3 separate regions of the Homo sapiens genome follow, and regions 1 and 3 are each linked to region 2. The links come from fine-mapping of genetic effects on gene expression. A gene starts in region 2. Each other region holds a variant in brackets. All regions are shown on one strand. Distances are from middle to middle.

What was found. PIP is the estimated chance that this variant, and not a neighbour inherited with it, causes the effect.
Region 1: its variant is the best candidate, but not a certain one, in a credible set for the expression of SNX22 in lung (GTEx, PIP 0.64).
Region 3: its variant is the best candidate, but not a certain one, in a credible set for the expression of SNX22 in whole blood (TOPMed, PIP 0.58).

The regions. Positions count from the first base shown.
Region 1 is chr15:64,117,098-64,119,597 of GRCh38, forward strand. SNX1 (sorting nexin 1) reads left to right here. Exons shown (of 15, transcript NM_003099.5): 3 at 1,020-1,147; 4 at 1,691-1,757. Among named protein-coding and RNA genes, the nearest start is that of SNX1, 22 kb to the left of the region's middle. The variant G/T (reference allele first, on the strand shown) is at 1,188.
Region 2 is chr15:64,150,170-64,153,017 of GRCh38, forward strand. SNX22 (sorting nexin 22) reads left to right here and starts at 1,562. Exons shown (of 7, transcript NM_024798.3): 1 at 1,562-1,681; 2 at 2,074-2,157; 3 at 2,469-2,573. The coding sequence starts at 1,607. RefSeq lists an enhancer at 221-330 and silencers at 1,248-1,687, 1,888-2,267.
Region 3 is chr15:64,661,128-64,663,975 of GRCh38, forward strand. The region is part of intron 3 of ZNF609 (zinc finger protein 609); the gene reads left to right. Among named protein-coding and RNA genes, the nearest start is that of OAZ2, 41 kb to the right of the region's middle. The variant CT/C (reference allele first, on the strand shown) is at 1,219.

The DNA.
Region 1 (2,500 bases), 33 kb before region 2:
CTTTCCCAAATGTTACTGTGCTTGTGTCTTGGCTCCATTTTTTTCTAGCTTATAGCTTTCCTGACACTTGCTTTGACGTCATTTTTTTCCTGTCAGTATGCCTGCCTCTTCTATCATATTGGTGTGTAAAGCAAATATCTGAACTTCTTTTACAAGCAATTTTTTTTCTTTTTTGGAGACAGAGTCTCCCTCTGTTGCCCAGGCTGAAGTGCAGTGGCGCGATCTCGGCTCACTGCAACCTCTGCCTCCCCAGTTCAAACAATTCTCCTGCCTCAACCTCCCAGTAGCTAGGACTACAGGCTCAGGCCACCACACCTGGCTACTGTTTTTTTGTATTTTTAGTAGAGACGGGGTTTCACCATGTTGCCCAGGGTGGTTTTAAACTCCTGAGCTCAGGCAGTCCTCCCACCTTGGCCTCCCAAAGTGCTAGGATTACAGGCATGAGCCGCCACGCCCAGCCTTTTACAAACAATTATAACAAGAATAAATAGGGCTCATATAATGTTCTAAAGGAATACTCCGAAGATTAAAATTGACAGACTAAATTAGCTGGCTGTGGTGGTATGCACCTGTAGTACCACCTATTCAGGAGGCTGAGGCAGGAGAATCACTTGAACCTGCGAGGTGGAGGTTGCAGTGAGCCCAGATCGTGCCACTGCACTCCAACCTGGGTGACAGAGTGACACTCTGTCTAAAAAATAAATAAAATTGATAAACTTATTTTGGCTGTGTTGTCTTTTTGCTTATCCTTGGTTCTTGTATAAATTCTAGGTAGGAGAGGGTAGCCAAGTGGTTGTATTTGGAAAGAAGGAGAGGTTGTTCTACTAAGCCTGTGCTAGAAGAACACTTCCCTTACCTTCCTCCCCTTTTCTCCTTGTAAACATTTTATGACTTTCAGTCTAAGAGCCTCTATGTATTGAGAGTGCTTGCTATTGTTCTTGTAAGTTCTTAGCCTATACAAGTTTAGCCTTCAAAGACTCATTACTGACCTTCATTTTAAAATATCAACTTCATTTTAGATGCCACAGTGGAGCTATCCTTGGACAGCACACAAAATAATCAGAAGAAGGTGCTAGCCAAAACACTCATTTCTCTTCCTCCTCAGGAAGCCACAAATTCTTCGAAGCCCCAGCCAACCTATGAGGAGGTGAGGATCTGTGCTCTTGGTCTTATCGCTTTTAGATATT[G/T]AGGACTGTGTACGGCCAGTCTGAAGTGTAGTTGAGTATGAACCTTGAGAAAATATTTGTTACTCTTGAAGGAGATCTTTATGGTTAATGGACAGCCAGAATCCAATACAGGAGTCTTTCTTGAGCAGAGTATCTATTGCCCAGAGAGCACGAAGGCTTTCAGTGGTTACTAAAGATACTTAGTGTGCGAAGCTTCCACATTCAGGAGTATAGTTTCTCCTCACTCCCTTCCTAGCCTGCAAGAGGCAAGTCTTTCTAAATCTGGCAGTTATTCATTGTCATCAAAATAAGATTTTAAGGGGATACATGTAACAAAGACTTGTAAGCTGGCTCCTAATTTAAAATTTTGAGAGTTGGTACATTGGGATTGTTGGGAATGGACAAAAGCTGAACACTGAAGGATACATCTTGATTTTATTAGATTGGTATAAGGTTATTACAGGGTAAAATTGATAGCTTTTTTTTTCATATCAACTCTCATGATTTGTCTTTTCTTGAAAAAGCTAGAGGAAGAAGAACAGGAGGATCAATTTGATTTGACAGTCGGTATAACTGATCCTGAGAAGATAGGTAAGTGGTTCTTAGGACTCCTTGTGATGTTAGGATGTGGCTGTGGAAAGCATAGGTAGCTAATTTCAGGATGGCTACCCCCAGAGTTGAACTAGCCAATGTGAAGTACTTCATTAGTATCTTTTCTGTAAAAGTAGACCCCTTGCTATGTTTCTAAGGCCAGAGACTGCTGTTACTCAATGCGTTAGTCAGTCTTTTCTTGGCTTCAGGAAGAAAAATCAGAGTCATCAAATACTACTAGAATCCCTTTTTATTTTTATTCTTTTGGTTTTTTGTTTTTTAGAGACAAGGCCTCATTTTGTCACCCAGAATGGAGCACAGTAGCACTATCATAGCTCACTATCATCTCCAGCTCCTGGACTCAAGCAGTCCTCCCGCCTGAGCCACCCCAGCCGCCCAAGTAGCTGGGACTGCAGGCACGTGCTACCATGCCGACTAATTCTTTTTTTAAGAGATGGGGTCTTGCTATGTTGCCCAGGCTGGTCTCAAACTCCTGGCCTCAAGTGATCCTCCTGCCTTAGCCTCTTAAAGCACCGAGATTACAGGCATGAGCCACCGCACCCAGCTAGAGTCTCTTTTTAAAAACCCCAACAGGCCAGCCATGGTGGCTCACACCTGTAATCCCAGCACTTTGGGAGGCCAAGGCAGGCAGATCACTTGAGGTCAGGAGTTCAGCCAGGCCAACATGGTGAAACCCCATCTATACTAAAAATGCAAAAATTGACCAGGCATGGTGGTGTGCG
Region 2 (2,848 bases):
TGGGGTCGTCATCTCAGCCCTTCTCTGGGGGCAGGGCTGGGGATGGAGGTTTTTTGCTCCAGCTCAGAGGCGTCTCTGCAGAAGCAGGGGAGGGGTGAGTCCCCTCAACCCCAGCCCCGAAGACAGGCACTCTGCTTCCTCCTGCCCACCCCAAGACCTCCCACTACGTATGAGCTTTGGAAGGCAGGGCCTCGCCTCTCTGCATGTCACGGGGCCTTTGTGGGGGAAGTCAGTGGAGTAGAGGACCTGCCATGGTGCTGCTGATAGCAGCTCTCCGACAGCTGAAGGGTGCAGGGCTGAGAGGTGGGAGCAGAGGTCCTTTCCAGCACATGGCCTGAGAGAGTTCTGGATCAAAATCCTGCCACATATCCAGGAAGAACCTGCCCGGAGGGGTGGACAAGAGCAACCCGGTGCCACCCCCCAAAGTCTCTCTTCCCATCCACTGCCCTGTGCCCACTTATCCTAGTCATCCAGGAGAAGCCCACAGTCAAGCTGCTGCTCAATGCTTCTGTTAAGGGCCTAACATGAATCATCTCACTTTTTTTTTTTTTTAAGACAGAGTCTTGCTGTTGCCCAGTCTGGAGTGCAATGGTTTGATCTCGGCTCACTGCAACCTCCGCCTCTCAGGTTCAAGTGATTCTCCCGCCTCAGCCTCCTGAGTAGCTGGGATTACAGGCATGTGCCACCACACCTGGTTGATTTTTGTATTTTTAGTAGGTACGGGGTTTCACCATGTTGGTCAGGCTGGTCTCGAACTCCTGACCTCAGGTGATCCGCCTACCTCGGCCTCCCAAAGTGCTGGGATTACAGGCGTGAGCCACCGCGCCCGGCCAAATCATCTCACTTTATACACTTGCCTGAAGGAGCCACGTTATCCCTATTTTGCAGATGAGCAAAGGTCTACGGAGCTCCTGAAATCCAGGCAGTCTGACGTCCAAATCGGAGTCTAGGTCCCTAAACTGCCTCTTCCCCACAAACAGCCTGGAGCCCCTTAGGGTTGGAAGATATGAGTGAATGGATGGATGAAAACAATGAATGAATGGGGGGGCCTGTGGATGCTGGGGAAAGGGGCATCAAAGCTGGACTGGGTCCAAGCCTTGCTCAGGTGTGGCCTCAGCCGGGGAATCCAGATCACAATTTCAGGGACCAGGCTGAAAGGAGGGAAAGGCTCGGGAAGGGACTGAGGAACCCAAGACAGGTCCCTGGTTGGCCCCAGGACCGGCGCTGAGGCCCGGGCCCCGCCTCCGTCCGCGCCTGGAGCCACAGGCCGTCCTTGGTAGGCGCTTAACTCAGGTTGGGTGACATTTTCGCTCGCCAGTTCCTGGCATCAGTGAGTGCTCCGTCAATGTTTGACAAACGGTTGACTCCACTGCCCCGCGCTGTGGGCGCACTAGACTTCGGGGGCGGCGTCCAGGTCCCGCCTAATCTTCTAGGCTCAGGACCCGCGGCGCAAGGGAACGCCCGGGGCGGGGTCGCCTGGGGGCGGGGCCTGGGGTGGGGCCTGCGGACCGAGGGGGCGGAGCCGGCCGCCCCGGGGTCCTCAGTCCGCTCCGGGAGAGTTAGGGCTCCGAGCCGAGCGCGCGGAGCAGCTGGGGCCGGGGCGCGGATGCTGGAAGTTCACATCCCGTCGGTGGGGCCCGAGGCCGAGGGGCCCAGGCAGAGCCCGGAGAAAAGCCACATGGTGAGCGCGGCCCCTGGATGGGGAGGGGCGCCGGGACCCGCAGGATTTCCCCGCGCTGCGCTCAGTGGGGACCCGGGGCCCGGGCCTGGGTGAACGAGCGCTGCGGGCTGGACCGTCGGGGGAAACCTTGTCGAGGGTTTGGGGGCCGCTTGGATTTGCCAGCCTCGCGGACCATGGTTCGAGCTCTTGAGGGACCCCAGGGCTCCGAGGGGCAGGTCCGCCAGCCGGTTCTCCCAGGTGTGCGGGAGCGGAGAGTCCCCGGGCAGCCGCGGCGCCGCAAGGCCGCTTTGTGCCTTTGAGAGCGGGAGGGTGGGCACGTCGCCAGGCGCAGGTGCTGCGGCGTCCTCCCGCGGGGCCTCACGCGCAGACCCGCTGCCCGCCCGCGCCGCCAGGTGTTCCGAGTGGAGGTGCTGTGCAGCGGGCGCAGACACACGGTGCCAAGGCGCTACAGCGAGTTCCACGCGCTGCACAAGCGGGTGAGGCGGCGCCGACCTCCCACCGGCCCCGGCCCAGCCTCTGTCCAGCCCCCGCCCAGGCCCTGTGAGGCGGGCGGGCGAGCCCCAGCCTCCGCCACCCCCATTACTGCCTCAGTCCCTGCGCAGCCGGTCAGCCCCCGGGCCTCTGTGGGTGGGTTGGGGCCTTCCTCGCCCTCGGCCGGTCCACCACTCACCAGGGTCTGTCCCAGTAGAGCCCGAAGGCGGGGGCGCGGGAGGGCTTCTGGCTGGGGCGAAGAGGGCTTGAGGGCTCAGTCGGGATGCTGTGATCGCACGCGGTAAACCTCCAGTAGATCAAGAAGCTGTACAAAGTGCCCGACTTCCCCTCGAAACGCCTGCCCAACTGGAGGACCAGAGGGTTGGAACAGCGCCGGCAGGGCTTGGAGGCTTACATCCAGGTATGCGAGAGCACAGTTGGTTGCCCCCCGGCCTTCTGTGCCAGGGGTGTGGCCCAGACAGAGAGGTGTGGGGGCATGGCAGGGAGGGAACCCACAACTTGGGGATGTTATTCACCACCTCAAGCATCAATTTTCTGAGTCTAATATAGGTCCAAACACCCCCCTCTGGCTTGTTGAAAGGACTGAAAGAGGTAACGGACACAGGTAGTCCCAGCTCCATGAAACCCAGGTCCTGTCCCCTCCATGGTGAGGTCCTGTGCTGCCCTCCTGATGGC
Region 3 (2,848 bases), 510 kb after region 2:
ATTTTGGTATTTTTTGTAGAGACAGGGTTTCACCATGTTGGCCAGGCTGGTCTCGAACTCCTGGGCTCAAGCAGTCCTCCCGCCTTGGCCTCCCAAAGTGCTGGGATTACAGGTGTGAGCCACCACGACTGGCCGCGTATCACTATCTGACATATGCTTACATGTTCCCTTATTTATTGTCTTTCTCCTCTTATCTGAATGTAAGAGCAGAGACTTGGTCAGTTTTGTGTGTTGCCATGTCCCAGTACTTGAGAACAGTGTCTGGCCCAGAGTAGGTGCTCATTTGTGGAATAATAGAATGAATGAAAGCATGTATGTGTGCTAATCTGTACTTTACCCTGGTTAGTTAGGGTGTATTTGTATCCAGTTAGGGTATAGTTGTCAACATCAATCAGGATTGAAAATTGGGATTAAAATAAGATTTAAAAGCAGCATATAGGCAAATGCTGATGTTTCCATTTGGAAACTCAATGCTACTGGAATATTCAGGTACACTTCATCTCTTCCCCTTTCTCTTTTGTTGTCTCTTATGCTGAGGGCAAGCATCTGGCCTTATTTATCCTTATTCTCTAGTACTTAGTCCAGCACATTCCATAAAGTTGGCTCTTAATAAACATTTGCTGCCAACCCAGGAGTGGACCTCAGCATTTCTTCACTGTTTTTGTAACTTCAATACTTCACAGAATGCTTGGCAAATAATAGATGCTCAATAAATATTCGTTCAAGGTAGGAATGAATTATTTGTCTACCTAGGGTAGACATTATTCCAGGTTATCTGTTATGTAACAAATTAACCTAAAACATAGTTGTCTAAAACAATAAATATTATCTCACAGAGTTTCTGTGGCTCAGGAATTCAGGAGTAGCTTAACTGGGTGGTCTGACTCAGGGTCTCTCATGAGGTTGTAGTCAGTTGTTGACTGGGGCTGCCATCATCTGAAAGCATATCTGGGGCTGGAGGATCCTCTTCCAAGTTGCTTCACTACATGACTATTGGCAGAGGGCTTCAGTTGCTGGCCTCGTGGACTTCTCCATAGGGCTGCTTAAGTGTTCTCACAAAATGGCTGCTGTCATCCCTAAGGGAAGAAATCCCAGAGAGAAAGCAAGGAGGAACCCCCAATAATACCTTTTATCACCTTGTCTCAAAAGTCATGCACCATCACTTCTGCAAGTTGCTAAAGGCAGCTCACACTCCAGGGGATGAGAATTAGGCCCCAT[CT/C]TTTTTTTTTCCTCTGTGAATTAGGCTGGAGTGCAGGGGCAACATCTCAACTCATTACAGCCTAGATCTCCCGGGCTCAAGTGATCCCCCCATGTCAGCCTCCATAGTAGTTGGCACTACAGGCACATGCCAACAAGCCCAGATAATTTAAAGAATTTTTTAGAGACAGGGTCTCACTACATTGCCCAGGCTAGTTTCGAATTCCTATGCTCAAGCAATCCTCCCACCTTGGCCTCCCAAAATGCTGAGATTACAGGCATGAGCCACCATGCTTGGCCATGAAGCATTTTTAAAACATTGAGATATTTCTACTAAAACTAATAATTTTTTTTTTCTTGAGACAGGGTCTCTTTCTGTTGCCCAGACGGGAGTGCAGTGGCGCGATCTCGGATCACCACAACCTCTGCCTCCCAGGCTCACGCGATTCTCTTGCCTCAGCCTCCTCAGGAGCTGGGATTACAGGCACGCGCCACTACTGCCCGGCTAATTTTTGTATTTTTAGTAAAGATGGGGTTTCACCATGTTGACCAGGCTGGTCTTGAACTCCGGACCTAAGATGATCCACCTGCCTCGGCCTCCCAAATTGCTGAGATTACAGGCATGAGCCACCGTGCTTGGCTAACTAATAACTATTTTTATGTGTTTTTTTGGGAATAGGTGATACATACAGATGTATGTATCACCTATACCTGTATGTATGAGTTCAAAAGCTAAAAGGTTTTATACAGAGAAATGATAGGATATGAGAGGTTTTATTTAACAGGATCTCTCTGGTCTCTGTGTTGAGAACAGGTCAGAAAGTGATAAAGATGGAAGCAAGTTAGGAAGCTATTGCAATAATTTAAGGAGTGCTTGGAGCAGTAGAAGTGGAGGTAATGAGAAATGATCAAAATCTGGATATATTTTGAAGGTTGAGCCAAAAAGATTTGCTGATGGTCAGGTGTGGGGACATGGATAGTAGGAGAGGAACCAAGTAAAACTCTAAGGGTTTTGACCTGAACACCTAGAAGGATGTACACATGCCATTACCTCAGATAGGGAGAATTCAGAGCAAGTTGTTTTTGTTGTTCTTGGAGGAGAGGGTTGTTAAGGAGAGGATGGGTATCAGGAGCTCAGTTTGGAACATATTAAGTTTGAGATCTCCATTTAGACGTCCAATGGAAATGTCAAGTTTGTGATTAGATACATGAATCTGGAGTTTAGGGGAGAGGTTGGGGCTAGGGATAGAAGTTTGAGTCATCAGCTACACATGAAGTACCAGCAAAAGATGCTGAGGAATGACCAGAGAGATAGGAGGAAAACCAGGAGAGTATGGTGTTCTGGAAGCCAAGTGAAGGAAGCGTTTCAAGAAGGGAATTGGTCTGAGCATGAAGGAGCTGAGCATGAAGGTACCAGATCCCTGAGAGAAAGTATGTACTAATGGAAATAGTAAAAATGAGGGGCCTAGAAAAAAATCTCTCTCTCTCTTTCTACTATTATACTTGGATCAGCCTTGACTACACAAATGTTTTGAGGTTTTGAATTATTATCTGAAACAAAGCAGTGCTGCTTTGGGATTGAGTTTGTCTCAGCATTTCACTCCTAAGAACTGTGGGAACCTGGCCAGTCGTGGTGGCTCATGCCTGTAAT